Linked DNA regions of Homo sapiens: region 1 is linked to region 2. The links come from fine-mapping of genetic effects on gene expression. A gene starts in region 2. The other region holds a variant in brackets. All regions are shown on one strand. Distances are from middle to middle. Region 1 overlaps UBE2D2 (ubiquitin conjugating enzyme E2 D2). Region 2 holds the start of CXXC5 (CXXC finger protein 5).

The links. PIP is the estimated chance that this variant, and not a neighbour inherited with it, causes the effect.
Region 1: its variant is the best candidate, but not a certain one, in a credible set for the expression of CXXC5 in whole blood (INTERVAL, PIP 0.81).

The regions. Positions count from the first base shown.
Region 1 is chr5:139,568,092-139,576,419 of GRCh38, reverse strand. All of the region lies in intron 1 of UBE2D2 (ubiquitin conjugating enzyme E2 D2), which reads right to left. Among named protein-coding and RNA genes, the nearest start is that of UBE2D2, 11 kb to the right of the region's middle. RefSeq lists enhancers at 543-672, 7,921-8,328. The variant G/A (reference allele first, on the strand shown) is at 3,910.
Region 2 is chr5:139,643,433-139,651,760 of GRCh38, reverse strand. It overlaps CXXC5 (CXXC finger protein 5), which reads right to left and starts at 3,412. Exons shown (of 3, transcript NM_016463.9): 1 at 2,916-3,412. It overlaps CXXC5-AS1 (CXXC5 antisense RNA 1), which reads left to right and starts at 2,033. Exons shown (of 2, transcript NR_149086.1): 1 at 2,033-2,426; 2 at 2,580-2,762. RefSeq lists an enhancer at 692-1,192 and silencers at 1,985-2,154, 2,355-3,484.

The sequences.
Region 1 (8,328 bases), 75 kb after region 2:
CACACACAGAGAAGGTGATACAAAGATGGAGGCAGATGCTGGAGTGATGTAGCCACAAACCAAAGGAGCCAAGGAATGCTGACATCCACCAAAGTTGGAAGAGGCAAGGAAGGATTCTCCCCTAGAACATCCAGAGTATGGACCTGAAGACAGACTGACTTTAGACTGCTGGCCTCCAGAACTGTGAGAGAATATAGTTCTGTTACTTTAAGCCACCCGGTTTGTGGTAATTTATTATGGCAACCCTAGGAAACTAATACAGATGGTATAAATATGTAAACATTTAATCTAAAGAAAATCACGCACTCCATTAGTGTGCTATTATTTTAAGAAATCTAAAACTCCTACCATTGAGGCTTTTGTAAAAATCAACTTTGATTTCAAGGCTTGTCTTGTTTTGAGTCAGGATCTCGCTCTGTCACCTAGGCTGGAGTGCAGTGCAGATTATAGCTCACTGCCGCCTTGAACTCTGGGCCTCAAGAGATCCTCCTCTTCCACCTCAGTCTTCCCAGTAGCTATGACTACAGGCGTGTGCCACCAAACCTGGCTAAGTTTTGCAGTTTTTGTAGAGAAGGGGTCTTGCTGAATTGCTCAGGCTGGTCTCCCAGCCAAGTGATTCTCCCACCTTGGCCTCCCAAAGCACTGAGATTATAGGCATGAGCCACTGTACCCAGCTAATTTCAAAGTTTTTCCCTGACATAAGCCCTTAAGAATTTAGCAAAGCAATTCTATCACTTATATTGGCATGATGCATTACAGGTGGTGGGGTTAGTGCTCAAAGGATAGCAGCAGACACTTCTATAATAAGATGTTTAAGAGAATTGATTTCACAATTCTAGACCTACAAAAATATCACATGTATTAAAAACATATTAAGGTGACAGTATTTTGAAGTTTGCTGAAGAATACTGGGATTCAATCCCTTTTTTAGTTTAGAAATATTATAAGACTTCATTCTTTTCACATTCAGGTTTTTCTTTTTTTGCTTGGGGTGACGATGAAGTAAAAGTGAAACATATATTTAACACTGACACCTAAGATTTTGAGATTATACCAATTCCGTAGGTCAACATTATTGGCATGTTAAGACACCATGATAATATTTAAAAACTTAAAAAAAGAAAAGTCCACCAAATCTAAGAAGCCCCTTTCCTCTGTAATGTCCCTCTAGTGCCCTCTATTGACAAAGCCCAACATGTTGTTCACTGCAAAGGTGAAAGAGTCCAGCTCTTCACCAGCTGAAATACATACTTCAGAAGTTATTTAGTCAAAGCAGAGCAAGTACGGGAGGGTGAACTTGGAGCCAACTAATAAACTGCTAAGTGGCAGGGTTGTTTCACTATTTGTTCCTTTTTATTGGTGGGTAATGCTCCATCCAGTATATGGATTTTCTACATTTTGTTTACATATTCAGCTAATGATGGATATCTGAGTTGTTTCTAAGTATCGGGTACTGTGAATAAAACTGCCAAGCACATTTGTAAAAAATAACAACAAAATTATCTTTTATGTAGTCCAAAATGCTAAACCCTCTTCTATCTAATCTTCCCCACAGGCTTGCAGGGTACAATTCCCATTCTACAGACAAGGAAGCTGAGGCTCAGGAAAATTCGCAAAGTGACTTGCCTAAGGCCACAAATGCTCCAAAATTCCACCTTTTCTTTTCTTTTTTTTTTTTTTTTTTGCCACCCCACCTGATATTGGCATTCACTGAATGTTGTTGGCAAACACAGAATACCATGCTTTAGGTACTAGGAATACGAAGAATAAGACAAGAACTTTGCCCAGGAGAGTTCAGTCTAAATAGGGGAATAATCAATCATGTCTACACACTAAGAAACGATTCTACAGTTGAACTCTGACTGCCTGTATGCCTCATGCATGCTTCCTAGAGAAGCCATTTCTGCTGGGTCCCCAAGTATGAATAAAGAATTTAGGAGGTAGGGGATGGGGTGAGAAGAGATTCTCTGTATAAGCAAAGGCACTGAACAAAGACCGGAGAACATGATTCTAGGAAGGACCAACTACAAGCGTTACAACTACAGCAGCATTCCCCAGGAGATACTAATTACTAATATGTATTATAGTAATAAAGACAGTAATATTTTTCTTCTAAATTTTACTTTTTTTTTTTTTTTTGAGACAGAGTTTCACTCTCGTTGCCCAGGCTGGAGTGCAGTGTGCAATCTCAGCTCACTGCAACCTCCGCCTCCCAGGTTCAAGCAATTCTCCTGACTCAGCCTCCTGAGTGGCTGGGATTACAGGCCCCCACCACCACGCCATAGCACTCCAGCCTGGGCAACAAGAACGAAACTTCGTCTCAAAAAAAAAAAAGAGAGAAGTTATTTAATCGAAGCTTATTATATATTAAATATTTCAAGTGTACTCATTCCCAATTGACTTATATCTAGGAGAGAGACATTTTTTATTATTTATTTATTTATTTATTTAGAGACAGTCTCGCTCTGTCGCCCAGGCTGGAGCGCAGTGGCGTGATCTCAGCTCACTGCAAGCTCCGCTTCCCGAGTTCAAGCCATTCTCCTGCCTCAGCCTCTCAAGTAGCTGGGATTACAGGCACCCGCCACCACACCTGGCTAATTTTTTTTGTATTTTTAGTGGAGATGGGGTTTCCCCGTGTTAGCCAGGATGGTCTCGATCTCTTGACCTCGTGATTCGCCCGCCTCAGCCTCCCAAAGTGCTGGGATTACAAGCTTGAGCCACTGCGCCCGGCCGAGAAAGACATTTTAAATGGAAAGCAGAGTCCTTTGATTCCTAAGCCCAAGTAGTCGTATTATTTCAAAATAAACACAAGCAAAGAACAGGCATTTTTCAGAAAAATTAGGGTGACCTATCCATGATGGGATAATTAATAATGTCAGCAGCAGCCTAACTGCAAAATATGCAGTCTGTATTCTTTCTTTTGCTACAATGTATCTGTTGGAAACAAATTTTCATATTATACTGCAATGAAAACAATATACAGTAAGACATTTAAAGGAGTACCTGATGAGGATGACTTTTATTATGTAAGAAAAATACTATTCTTAAAACTGATAGCAAAATAAGAATGACAGATGTTTCATCTTGATAGTACTTTTTTTTTTTTCTTTTTTTTTTTGAGATGGAGTTTCGCTCTGTCGTCCAGGCTGGAGTACAGTGGTGCGATCTCGGCTCACTGCAAGTTCCGCCTCCCAGGTTCACGCCATTGTCCTGCCTCAGCCTCCTGAGTAGCTGGGACTACAGGTGCCCACCACCACGTCTGGCTAATTTTTTTGTATTTTTAGTGGAGATGGGGTTTCACCATGTTAGCCAGGATGGTCTCGATCTCCTGACCTCATGATCTGCCCGTCTCGGCCTCCCAAAGAGCTGGGATTACAGGCATGAGCCACCGCGCCCAGCCTCATCTTGATAATTCTTAATAATTCTGTTTGTGACATTATTTTGATTATATATTTTAATTAATTTATCTGAGATCAGGTGGGGCATGGTGGCTCACACCTGCAATCCCAGCACATTGAAAGGCTTAGGCGGGTGGATCACTTGAGGCCAGGAGTTCAAGACCAGCCTGGTCAACATGGTGAAACCTGCTAAAAATACAAAAATCAGCCAGGCACGGTGGTGCATGCCTGTAATCCCAGCTTCTTTTCTTGGGAGGCTGAGGCAGGAGAATTGCTTGGGCCTGAGAGGCGGAGGTTGCAGTGAGCTGAGATCACGCCATTGCACTACAGCCTGGGCAACAGAGCAAGTCTCTGTCTCAAAAAAAAAAAAAAAAGAATAATAATTAATTTATCTGAGGTAATTTGTGCTGTCAATTTTTTTTTTTAAGAGACAGATCTCGCTCTGTGGCCCAAGCTGGAGTGCACTGGCATGATCACAGCTCACTGCAGCCTTAAACTCCTGGGCTCAAGC[G/A]ATCCTCCTGTCTTGGCCTTTTGAGTAGCAGGGATTACAGGCACATGCCACTGCACCTAGCTAATTTAATTTTTTGTAGACACAGGGTCTTGCTATATTGCACAGGCTGGTATTGAACTCCTGAGCTCAAGTGATCCTCCTGCCTTGGCTTCCCAAAGTGCTGGGATTACAGGCATGAGCCACCATATCCAGCCAGTGCTCTCAATTTTAATACAAGTATGCATGATTTCATACACTTTGGCTTGTACTCCATCAACAATACTACTTTGATAAGCATTCTAATAAAGTTGGGAAACACCAGATATGAGGAAGAAGAAAGCAGTTTATCAGAAGCCAAAGGAACTGAATGAAAATCATGTCAACTATTACGAAAGTTAAATAAAAACTTAGGTATCCACTGAATGTGGCAATTAAGTAATCATTAGTGACCTTACTAAATAGTTCCAGAACAGTGAATAGACTATTCTTTCAAGAATTCTGGGACTGAAATGTCAGAGATGGGAAGGATAAAGATGAGGAAGGAAGTAGCTCTTATGGAAGAGGGAAGTTTAAAAAGTTATTTTACTGCTTTTTTTTTTTTTATAGGGGAAAACCTTCGATAAGTTTGGATGCTAAGAGGAGTTAGTGGAGAAGAGATTGGAAGTATGAAAACAAAGACAATTACCGGAGAGCAAAAACAAGAAAAGGAAAAAGGAAGGAAGGAGGGAGGAAGTGAGTGAGGGAAGGAGGAAGTGAGGGAGGGAGGGAGAGAAGGAAGGAAAGAGGGAAAGAGAGAGAGAGAAAAGGATGGAAAGCAAAAGTTAAGTTTGGCAAAGGGAAAAGTAAAGCTTCTCTAGAGATTAGAGGGGAGAAGGGCTATGACTAAAACAAGTAAATCTGGAGACACAATAGCTCTACAGTCAAGATCGCCTGTATCTGAATCCTAGTTCTTCCTACCATAACCATATAATGTTAGGCAAGTTTATTTCTCCCACTGTTTCCTTATCTAACCTGGGGAGAACAGAATTATTGAAAGATTATTGAAAAGATCAAGTAATTCCTGATGCACAGTGAGTACTCTAAAGTGGATAGCTGAAATCTGTGTTTGTTTTTTTTTTTTTTTTTGAGAGGGAGTCTTGCTCTGTCGCCCAGACTAGAGTACAGTGGCACGACCTCGGCACACTGCAACCTCCGCCTCTTGGGTTCAAGTGATTCTCCTGCCTCAGCCTCCCAAGTAGCTGGGATTACAGGTGCCCACCACTGTGCCTGGCTAATTTTTGTATTTTTAGTAGAGATGGGGTTTCACCATGTTGGCCAGGATGGTCTCGATCTCCTGACCTCACGATCCACCCGCCTCGGCCTCCCAAAGTGCTGGGATTACAGGCATGAGCCACCGCGCCCAGCCGATCTGTTGTTTTAATACCTTGAAGGAAATCCCTAACAACTCACACGTAAGATTTATATTTTCTCTGCAGAACAGGTACTCTGTTCATCTGCTGAGATTAAAATAATGTTTAAGGTGGAAGGACAGTGGTTTTTAGTCTTTTTAGAGATTAAAAACCCATTTGAGGCTGCTCTGCCTAGGGAGTAGCCATTCTTTATTCCTTTACTTTCCTAATAAACTTGCTTTCACTTAAAAAACAAAATCCATTTGACTCTGATGAAAGATATATGCAGAAAGCCGGGGGTGGTGGCTCATGCCTGTAATCCCAACACTTTGGGAGGCCAAGGCAGGTGGATCACTTGAGGTCAGGAGTTCCAAACCAGCCGAGGTGGGTGGATCACGAGGTCAGGAGATCGAGACCATCCTGGCTAACATAGTGAGACCCCATCTCTACTAAAAATACAAAAAATTAGCTGGGCATCATGGCACGCGCCTGTAGTCTCAGCTACTCTGGAGGCTGAAGCTGGAGAATTGCTTGAACTCAGGAGGCAGAGGTTGCAGTGAGCCGAGATCACACAACTGCACTCCAGCCTGGGCGTCAGAGCTAGACTCCATCTCAAATAAAAACAAAAAACAAAAATTAGCCGGGCGTGGTGGCATGCACCTGTGGTCCCAGCAACTTGGGAGGCTGAGGCAGGAGAATCTCTTGAACCTGGGAGGCAGAGGTTGCGGTGAGCCGAGATTGCACAACTGCACTTCAGCCTGGGCGACAGAGGTAGAGACTCCGTTTCGGGGGAAAAAAAGGCGGGGTGGTGGTGGTGGTGAGAATAGAACACCAAATTTGCAATAGTTGTTTTGTTGTTGTTGTTGTTGTTTTGACACAGAATCTGGCTCTGCTGCCCAGGCTGGAGTGCAGTGGTATGATCACAGCTCACCGTAGCCTTAACCTTTCATCCAGGCTCAAGTGATCCTCCTGTCTCAGCCTCCTGAGTAGCTAGGACTACAGGCACACATCACCATGCCCAGCTAATTTTGTTTCACTTTGTTTCGCTTTTGTAGAGACAGGGTCTCCCATTACAGACCAAGCTGGTCTTGAACTCCTAGGTACAAGCAATCCTCCCACCTTGGCCTCCCAGTGTTGGGATTACAGGCATGAGCCACTGTGTCAAGCCTAAATTTGCAGTTTCAAGCAGTATGAGCAACCTTGCCAATCATATAAAGGGAAGTTGAGGAAGATCTTCAGGTTCCAGGACACAGTTTAAATATCCAATTGTTTGAACAAAAGAAAAAAGGCTGCATCCTCTGGATTTATATACCTAACAGCTATGTAAGGATAACACATGGCTTGCCAGAAAATACACTGGACAGTCCAGAAATCCAGGTTCTCAATTCAGACCTACTCTTACCTGGTAGGTCACACGGCCTTTCCAGACAGCAGCCCTGAGATGTGCTGCAGTGCTAACATTTTATGATTCTATTACCCAAAATCTCACTTGACTCTGCAGACAGAAGAACAAACACTACTTTATTTCCCTATATTATAGTTTAACATGATTTTGAAGGTTTGCCTGGAAATCTAACCATCAAAACTTTATTTCTACAGACAAAACAAGTGTGTTTCTGCATTTCTGGGATGAGGCTGCAAAGGTTCCTGGTAGCATGAGGCATGAGTCAGATACTCCTATCCTGGGAACTGCCTAGGATATTTTAAGAGAAATATACAGAATTGGACCTTGTCAAAACCTCTTCCTTGTCAGTCATCAGTACAGTAATATACACTGGGAGACTTCAGAGAAAACCTAGATTTATTAACAGTTATCCTCGATGGCTGTTTGAATTATATTTAAATAACAATCTAGTAGAGCCAAAGAAAGTGCCTTAATTCAATGATCTTTTGTAAAGGAAATAAAAAATACTTTTTTAGTGGGGAAAAAAAAATTCCCAGAACTTATGTGAAGAAGCTCACCTTTTGGAGTAAGAAGGTATCCAAGATAGAACTATCCAAGATAGAACTAATTTAAATAGCCATATTCAGACAACCATTTATTAAAGTTCCCAATACTCCACAGGACTACCTGTTAATTCATCATTTTGATAGGAATTCAATCAGTCCTTACCTCTAATATTAATCTAATATATGGTACCACACCTCTAGTACAGTATTTTTTTTTCTTTTTTGAGACGGAGTCTTGCTCTGTTGCCCAAGCTGGACTGCAGTGGTGCGATCTCAGCTCACCACAACCTCCACCTCCCGGGTTCAAGCAACTCTCTGCCTTAGCCTCCCCAGTAACTGGGATCACAGGTGCTCACCACCATGCCCGGCTAATTTTTATATTTTTAGTAGAGACAGGGTTTCACCATCTTGACTAGGCTGGTATTGAACTCCTGACCTCGTGATCCACTCACCTCGGCATCCCAAAATGCTGGGATTACAGGCGTGAGTCACCGCGCCCGGCCTACAGTATTTTTTATTTTCATTTTTTTCTTTTTCTAGACAGAGTTTCGCTCTGTCGCCCAGGCTAGAATGCAGCGGCGCGATCTCCACTTACTGCAAGCTCTGCCTCCCGGTTCACGCCATTCTCCTGCCTCAGTCTCCCGAATAGCTGGGACTACAGGCACCTGCCACCACACTGACTAATTTTTTGTATTTTTAGTAGAGATGGGGTTTCACCGTGTTAGCCAGGATGGTCTCGATTTCCTGACCTTGTGATCCACCTGTCTTGGCCTCCCAAAGTGCTGGGATTACAGGCATGAGCCACAGCGCCCAGCCCGGCCTACAGTATTTTTAAGCAATTTTTTTTTTTTTGAGATGGAGTCTCGCTGTTGCAAAGGCTGGAGTGCAGTGGCGAGATCTTGGCTCACTGCAACCTCTGCCTCCCAGGTTCAAGCAACTCTCCTGCCTCAGCCTCCTGAGTAGCTGGGATTACAGGTGAGTGCCACCACACCTGGCTAATTTTTGTATTTTTAGTAGAGACAGGGTTTCACCATATTGGGCAGGCTGGTCTCGAACTCCTGACCTCAGGTGGTCGGCCCGCCTCAGCCTCCCAAAGTACTGG
Region 2 (8,328 bases):
CACCCGTATTCCCTCATTCCTCCACCCTATCCTGCAACCTGGAAAGTCAGCCCAGCCCACATCCCTCTCTCCCTCCTAGCAAGACTCCCTCCACTCCATCCTCCCATAAACAACAAGGTGCAGTCAGTCCTGAAGAAGGCAGGGTATTTCATTCCCCTGGACTTGTTTCTTCACCCAGATACAAGCCTGCCCCCACACTCCTATGGGTCTCAGTTTCACATGTGCCAAATGAGTAGGAGGCAGGCAGAGCAGGAAAGGGGCAGCAAGAGTTGAGGGTCACAGTGGGAACCCATGGAACATGGGCCTGTGCTGGCCGGTGCCCTGGATGCAGAATCCTCCCCTCCCCTTCCCCCACCCACCCCAGCCCAGCCCAGCCCAGCCTAGCCCAGCTGGGTGGACATTCCAGGCCTCACGTGATAAAGACGAGGCCACTGGCCCTCGGGTAAGTCAACAGGCTCTGTCGCGGGAGAGATAGGAGGCCCTGGCCAGGGTCACCTGCTGAGCGGGGAAAACGGCCAGGACCAGATACACACATAAATAAGGCACCAACCCGACAGCCAGCCAGCCAAGGGTCTGTCTTCTGCAGAGGCTCACCTTGGAAAGGGAGGTGGCATGGAGAGGGAGGCCAAGGCTGACTAGGGGCGTCCCTGGGAGAGACCCAGCTACTGCGAGGATGAGGGGTAGGGGGGTTCTACCCAAGTTCCGGGGGCTGGCTGGGAACTCGGAGGCCAATCTCCTTCAGCTGTTCCCATCTCTTCCCAGGGCAAAAATCAAACCATCACCCCCTCTCCCTCCTCCCCAAGGAGAGGACAATTTCCGTTCTGGGAGGGGGGTGACAGCTGCAGAGCGGGCCACTCCCCACCCCCCCAAGCTCCAGCCTGACTCTCATCTAGGGAAACTGCTAAATCAACAATACGCAGTTACGGGTAGGTAGCCCGCCGGCCTGAGTTTCCCCGCACGGCTCTCAGAAAGGGGTTTAGAGGGGGCTTCGGTCTCAGTTCCCGGTTTTCTAGTGGCGGTTGGAAACCAAGGCACGGGCATCTTTCAGGAGGGGGATCAGGTGAAGCTTAGGCCAGTAGGTCCCCCAAGACGTCTAATTTAAATACTCCCAACTGCAAAGGACAGACGCCCCCCACCCCGCGGCCTGGGGCAGCTGAGGTGGAGCCGGGCGTTCAAATCGCGCTCCAAACAAGTCCGCAGCGACCGCGCTCGCAGCCCCCGCCAGGCGGCCCCAGCGGAAAACTTGAAAGGGACTCTGTTTGCCGGCGGCCCTGGGGCGGCTCCGGCGGGGGCGAGGGCCGAGCGATCTCACACACGCCCCCTCCCCAACGCTTCCAAAGAAAATGCGGGGGTGGGGGGGACAGGGCCCACCACAAATCCAAGGGCTCCAAACAGCGCCCGCCGCGCGAGGAAAGGTGGGGGTCAGGAGTCTGGTCCGCTGGTCACCCCCTTAGCTCCCCCCCCATCCGAAGGCGCGACTCTCAGACCACCCAAAGTCCAGGGGGCAAAGGAGGGCGCGGTTGCCAAACCTTCAGACCCCCGTCGCGGGAGACTTCAGGGAGCGGGTCTTTCCGAATGAGTCACTACAGAACCCCCCAAATTTACTGGTGCTTCCTTGCAGCCCGAGGCACCAGCCCAACTCCGCGCACCCCTTCAGATTCCCGGGGGGGAAAAAAGAACAAAAAGAGATCTTGCTCCCACTTTGGGCGTTTCAGCTCTTCTGACAGGTCCCGAAGGTGGCCCCCCATTTAAAAACCGGGGTCACTCGCTTTCCGTCGATCCTACAAATAAACAAAGCCAGGCGCACCCCGCGCTCCCCGCCGGAAAGCAGCCCATTCCGGGCGAGGACAACTTCCCCCAGCCAGAAAATTAACACATTCCTCTCGCGGCGGTTCAGCCCCTCACTCCGCTCCGGGGAAGCGAAGGGGAGGGGGGTCGGGCCGAACTTCATGGGTAAATTTGGGGCCAGTGCAGCGTGGCAGGCGCCGGGGACGTACGCCCCCCACAGTTCCGCAGCTAGAGGAACACCCCCATTCTCCCTCCCAGGCTCTGCACGCTGCGTGGCCCACGCGGGGCTCGGGAGACAGCTCAAAAGACTCCCCAAGGCTGGGAAAGGAGGGAGGGAGGGGCCGCGGGGCACCGTGGTGGTGGGGGAGATACTTTGATGGAAAAAAAAGGTCAAACTTCATCAGCCCGCCGGGCACCCCGCGGGCAGCGGGGGCGAGGAGCCGGAGGAAAAATGCAGAAGTAGCCGCCGCTTCTTCCAAGTGGTGGGGGAGGCTCAGCCACGCGTGGTCGAGGGCGCCCAGAGCAGTTAACGTCGCCCCTCAACACAGGGCTGCGAGCGGGGTCTGATGGGGGGAGTGCGCGCCAGAGATCTACAAGCAGCCGCCCCCGCAGGCTGAGCGCCCGCCCAACGCCAAGAGGTGAGGACCCCGGGCGCCCGCTGCCCCAGCGCCCGCGAACTGGAGTAGTGGGGGGGAGGGGGGCGGCACCCCGCAAGGAGCGTCCCAGCCCCACTCCACGGCGCCCAAGCCGCCGTCCCAGACCCTAAAACCCCTCTTTTTGTCTGAACTCAGTGATCTGCGACCGAGCATACTGCGGCTTAGGGAGGCTTGGGTATAGCAGCGGCCACCAAGCGATCACCGGCGCTAGGTCTCCCAGGCTCCGGGGCTCCGCGGCTTACGGTGCGGGCGCCCCCCGCCCCTCCCAAATACGGACCCCTCCTTCCCCGTCCCCGGCTCTCCGCACCTGAACTTCGGGGGAACCCGCGCAGCCAAACTTTCCGCCGACTTGCAGCGAACTCCGGCCCCGGCCGCGCACCGAACCCCGGGGGAGGAGAGGGAGGTAGGCGGGGAAGGGGAGGGGGCCGGCCTCCGGGGGGGGTCGAGGGAGGGCCGTGGCCCGACACCTACCGGCTCTCCGAGTCGTCCAAGCCGCCACCGCCGCCGTCGCCGCGAGGCCGAGGGGGAGGGGCGGGGCAGGGAGCTGCGCTCCGCTCTGGGCACCACCGCCGCGGTGCGCTCCGCTCCAGCCGCCAGCAGTGCCCGGGTCCGGAGCCCGAGTCGCGCCGCCGCGGCTGGCCCGAGGCGGGGAGGGGGGGGAGCCTGCAGCACCTGCCCCTCCTCCCCCTCCCCGCGGCCCAAATTAAAAAACAACAAAAAGCAACTAATCACCCCCGAGCTGAGCGCGGCTCGCGGGCGGAGGGCTCAGCGTGCGGCGCCCGGACTCAGCAGGCGGCGCGCATGGCTGGGCGCGGGCTGGGCAGGGCTGGGACGCGGGGCCCGGCTTCAGGGGATAAGGCTCTGCCGCTCTTCTCGCTCGGCTCGGGCGTCTGCTCTTGCCGCCAGTGCCGCCTCTGCTGCCGCCGCCTCTACATCCCCGCTCAGGCTCAGCCGCCTCTGCCGCCGCCGCCGCGCGCCCGCCCGGGCAGGAGCTATGAACGCTGCCCGGGGGCTGCCGGCAAAACCCGGACCGGACTCGCCGCTCCCTCCTCCCCCCAACCCCCTCCACCTCGGCTCCCCTCCCTCCTCCCGCCGCCTCCCTCCCAGCGCAGCTCGGGCCACTTGGACGCCGCGGGCTCTGAGGCCGGAGCTGCAGCCGCTGCGCCTCGAGCTCCCCGCGCCCTGACGCGGTCCACCCAGGCTCAGCTCCCTTGCGCGCCCCGTCTTCGCCTATTTCCCGCAACTTTACAAAAAAAAAAAAAAAAGGACGACCTCCCCGCTTTGGTGAGGCGGTCTGGGTTTAGAGACGCACCTCCGGGGAAATCTGCTATCTTTCTGCCCCCTCTAGAGCGGGGCCAGAAGCTTCGAGGACCGGGAGGGAGAATTTGGCCGCGCCCCCCAGCTCAGGTGCGCGGCGGGCCAGAGATTCCTAGTCGAGGGTCCTGGGAGGTAGACGCGTGTTCCAAGACCCCACCCTTCCAAGAGCTCCTTAATGGATTCAGTGGGCACTAGGGCCCCGGGAGAAAAGGGGCGGAGATTCCCGTTCCCATTTCTCAGGTGAGGAAACTGATCCGAGAAAGGATATTTTATCTCTCAGGCAGGCATCAGCCTCAACTCTTGAGTCCCGGGGCTAAAACGACTACGTACATTTGGTGCCCTGAGACCATGGCCTACGCACTCAAAACCCGAAACAATGCTTGGAACAGCAGCGCTCAATAGGTACTGATTGAAAGACAGAAGGAAAACTCAGCCTTGCCAGAGTAGGCGCCCAGTGGGGACAGAGTTGGGCCCGCATATCCCGCTTTCACTCCATCAGTGGCCTCCATATGCCCATCTTAGGCTAATTAATCCTGCTGCTGCAGATGTCTTCACCTCACGTACCCATGGTGCAAGCCCCGGGCTCATATAATCCCAACTGCATATAATCCCAAAGTGGAAGTTTTCTCCAATTCTTTGGGATTCGTGGGGGCGGATTTGTGCAAGGCCGACCTTCCTCTGCGAGGCGAAGAAAACGCAGTCCCCAGACCCAAGCAGGGGAGGGAGAGGGGGAGGGCGGTTGGGGAAGTCAGCCTAGGGTTAAACGTTACAGCCTGAGATCGATTGGGGCCCAGATAACAGGGAGTTAACTGTGGCGATCCGGGCGCCTGCAGCCACAGGCGCGGCCTCGGTGGGAGAAGCGAAACTGTCTCCCACCTCGCTGCTTCCTCTCCTCTGCTCTGCGCAGCCTGGCTGTCTCCGAGGCTGGCGCGAGGGCTTATGGAGCATGGATCTCCTGGCAGCAGCAGCTGGTGCCCACCTTCCACGCCTTCTATATGTGGCCTTGGGGCCTTGACCCAGCCGGGGTGGGGTGGGGGGAGGTGTCAAAGGGCAGAGCTCATCTGGAATGTGTTGCCTCTCTGCCACTCCTGATATCCAAGACCACACGAAGTGACCCCTCCCCAGACATCGTGGACACCTGCTCCCAACCAGTTCCTTCCGAATGCTGAGAAGTGGTCTCCCTTAACTACTATGCCAAGAAATGGCTCCCTTGGGGAGGCGTTTAGTCTCTCTCCTCCTTGCCAGCAGTCCTTTTAATGCCCCCCTCCAAACAAACATCCCATGTGAGTAAAAGTAAGGTGCTTGCTATGGAAACCGTTTTAAGACGCCCATCACCCCCAGAAGATCACTTCCAAACTGCTTAAAGATAGGTATGCTGGGCCTCAGTGTGAATGTCAGGCACTGTGTTGGGCACTGACCGTGCAAGGAAAAAGGAAGCAAAAGCCCAGGTGTAGGATCTCCAAGCATTTAACTCACCTCCATCTACCTTTTCTGGGGAAGCTGAGGCACAGACTGTGAGGGAGGACCTGCTCCCTGGGAGTCAGCAGCAGGTCTCAGAGGGTTAGGATCCATGAAGTCAAACTCTATTCCACAGATCTCCTGAAGCCTAACGCCAGTACAGAGTCAGGTCATGCACGCCCCACAAAAAGCTTTATGCTGGGGTCCATGGCAGAGGGTGGGTAGTAATTCTACTTTAGGGAACTGCTGACTATTACCCACTTTTTTTTCAGACTTATGCCTCCACCCCCACCCCCAACTCAGGCGGGAGGCCAGGGATCCACAGGCTGCAATGGAGGAAGGCCAGGTGGTCCCAGTGGTGATGGCTTCCTCAGGGAAGGGGTGTTGACTTGTCTGGCCCAGTTTAGGGGGTGGATCTTGGAGTTTTCCCTTGCTGGAAATTAACACCTTGGGAGGGAGACCTAGACTGTCACCTATCCAACCCATATGGGAGCCACAGAGGAAAAGGACAGAATTGTCCACACAGAAAGTGTTACAGAAACAGAAAATGTCATGTGCAAGCCATCCACAAAGAACTCTCCACCACAGATGCCAATGAGACAAGCGGGGGACATCCAGGAAGGATGGGGTGAGGATCTCTGCCCTTGGGTGAGACTGTCCCCACCACAGCCCCCTTCCCCAAGAAGAAGGGAAGCTTGGTTCACTATTCTCCCACCTCTGCCTACCTCAAAAAGGAGAATTGAAGTCTCACCTTGCTATTAAACTTTTTGCTGAGTTTTTTGAACCAATCAGCCTTCAAGTCAGGAAGAAGCTCCTTCAGTCTCCAGCACCGCTGGGGGAGATGGCCCCTGCATCACCAGCCTTGTCTTCTAGGGAGGGGTGCGTCCACCCGGGACCCTGGAGTGTGCTCTCCTGGATCCTGCTGATAATACCCATGGCTGGTATTTGTGCAGCCCTTACCCTGAGCAGGGCATTGTGCTAAACAGTTAAGGTACATTATCTTATTTAGCCCTTATAGCAGCCCCTGCAATAATGTCATCCCCATTATTCAGATGAGGAAACTGAAATGAGATTGGCATCAGAGCTGTTCTCAAACCCCTGAGGCCATGTGCTATTCTAGGGAGGCTTTCCACAGCCTCCAGTGAGGCTCATCTGCTTCACATCCTGCAGTGGTTCCTCACAGACTACCCTACTCAGCCTGGCTTCCCTAACTGACTCTCTTCCCTGCCAGGCCCTGCTGACCAATGCCATCTAACACTGGCAGTTCCCTCTGACACCCCAAGACTCCTCTCCAGATTTCCAGAGCTTTGCATGTACCATTCCCTCTGCCAAGATAGGCCTCATCAAGCTCACCTCATGAACTCCTCATGGAAGACCAGGAGCACATATCACCTGGGAACCATCTCAGACTGCCACTTCCAGCCTGAGTTTGGGCCATACCTACAGGGCCACCACTAGCCTTTGTGCAAATCAGAAAAAGGTACCCACTTTTGGCAGATACAGGAAACCATGAAGGAGGTCACAGACTGCCTTTCAGCTTCCTAGCTCCCTTTGCTAGGTGCCTTTTTGCAGTGCATGCACAGGACAGATGTACTCTGTGGCCTGGCTTTGGGTCCTTCATCTGGCTTTGGGACCCCTCCTATGGCCACAGTGACCACAATGCACAGAAATAGCTTTTATTTGCTCATCTCACTACTTGTCCCCTCGCCACCACCTCCCGCCATGAAAATTCTTTGAAGGTAAGGAGGAGTCCCCTACCTGCCTTGGGCCCGAAGCTTGGCCTCCAAAGAGGTACCAGTAATAACAATTGTAGCCAGAATCTTTCTGAGCTCTTGCTTGTCAGGGACCATGCTAATTGCTTTTTGAACATAGGCTTATTAAATCCACAGGCTTGGACACCTGTGTGAGGTTACAAAGTAGCAAAACCAGGATTTCAATCCATGCCTTGTCTGAGGCATTTTCCATGACTGCCATTTATCTGCTAATATCTGTCATTGATTAAACATCCAGTGACTGGAAATGGCCACATGGAGAGGAGTGTGGGAGTTAGGATCTCCAATAAAGATGGCCAATTTGGAACTCAGTCTAAGGTTTACCCTTCTTTGGGCCCCAGTTCTGTCACCTGTATCACAAAGGATGGGAGCAAAGGCATTTGAAACCCTGCCTGCTGGGGCAGGGCACAGGATAGTGTTCAGTGGGGTCATGCTGGACTGTGACCTCAGCCAAAATCCCAGGGCAGGCCTGGGGGTGCAAACACGGGCAGAGGCAGGGAGGAGCCTAACCGCACCAGACTGTGGCCCCGGGCCTTTGGGTCTGGGCCCTCACGCACTGACCACTGGACTTTAGGTCCTCCCCACCCCACCCCCATGACGTCTGAAGGAGCAGAGAGCTGTGAAATGAAAATTCAAAAAGCCAAGTCTCTCAAGTAACCCAGGCTTGCCCATTCCTGAGAAGTCAGTTTGGTGGCCAATGCCTGGCCTTGACCTGTGTAAACAGAGGGGAAGGGATGAGGACAGAAGGAAGACTCCAGTCCCAGAACAAAATGACTCTGGGGACAGAGGCTGAGAGAAAGCAGGAAGCAAGCTATATTTCCCATTGCCCAGGCACAGCTACATACACGCCATAGACAACCAGATACAGCCCTGTTCTCAGTGAGGCACAGGGAACTCAGCCTGTATATGGGATATTGATGGGGAGAGGGACAGTTTGGGGGCTGTTGTGCCCCTGACAATAACCCTTGGCTTCTCTAGACACAATCATGGTTCAACTCTGTCCTATGGGAGTGGGACTGAGTGCTCCCAGAGGCCAAAGCTGTGGCTCCAGCCTCCCTGCCACACTTCAGGAAGAGGGAGGGAGAGCATTGCTGAGAGGTGGGGAGGTAACTGAATGGGGCCTTAGGGGAGGCAGAGGCACAGTGTCCCAATCTGGAGCCCTGCACCTGGAGGAGGGGTGCCCTGGGCAGGAGAAGCCAGCCTGCCCTGAAAGTGCCCTGCCCGACCCAAAGCCTGAAGGCTAGGGTGTGGTGGTGTGGGGGAGGCCTGCTGGAGGAGGCAGGGTGGGGCTCAGCCTCCTCTCTACAAATCTGGTCCTGGAGGGCAGTGCAGGGTCA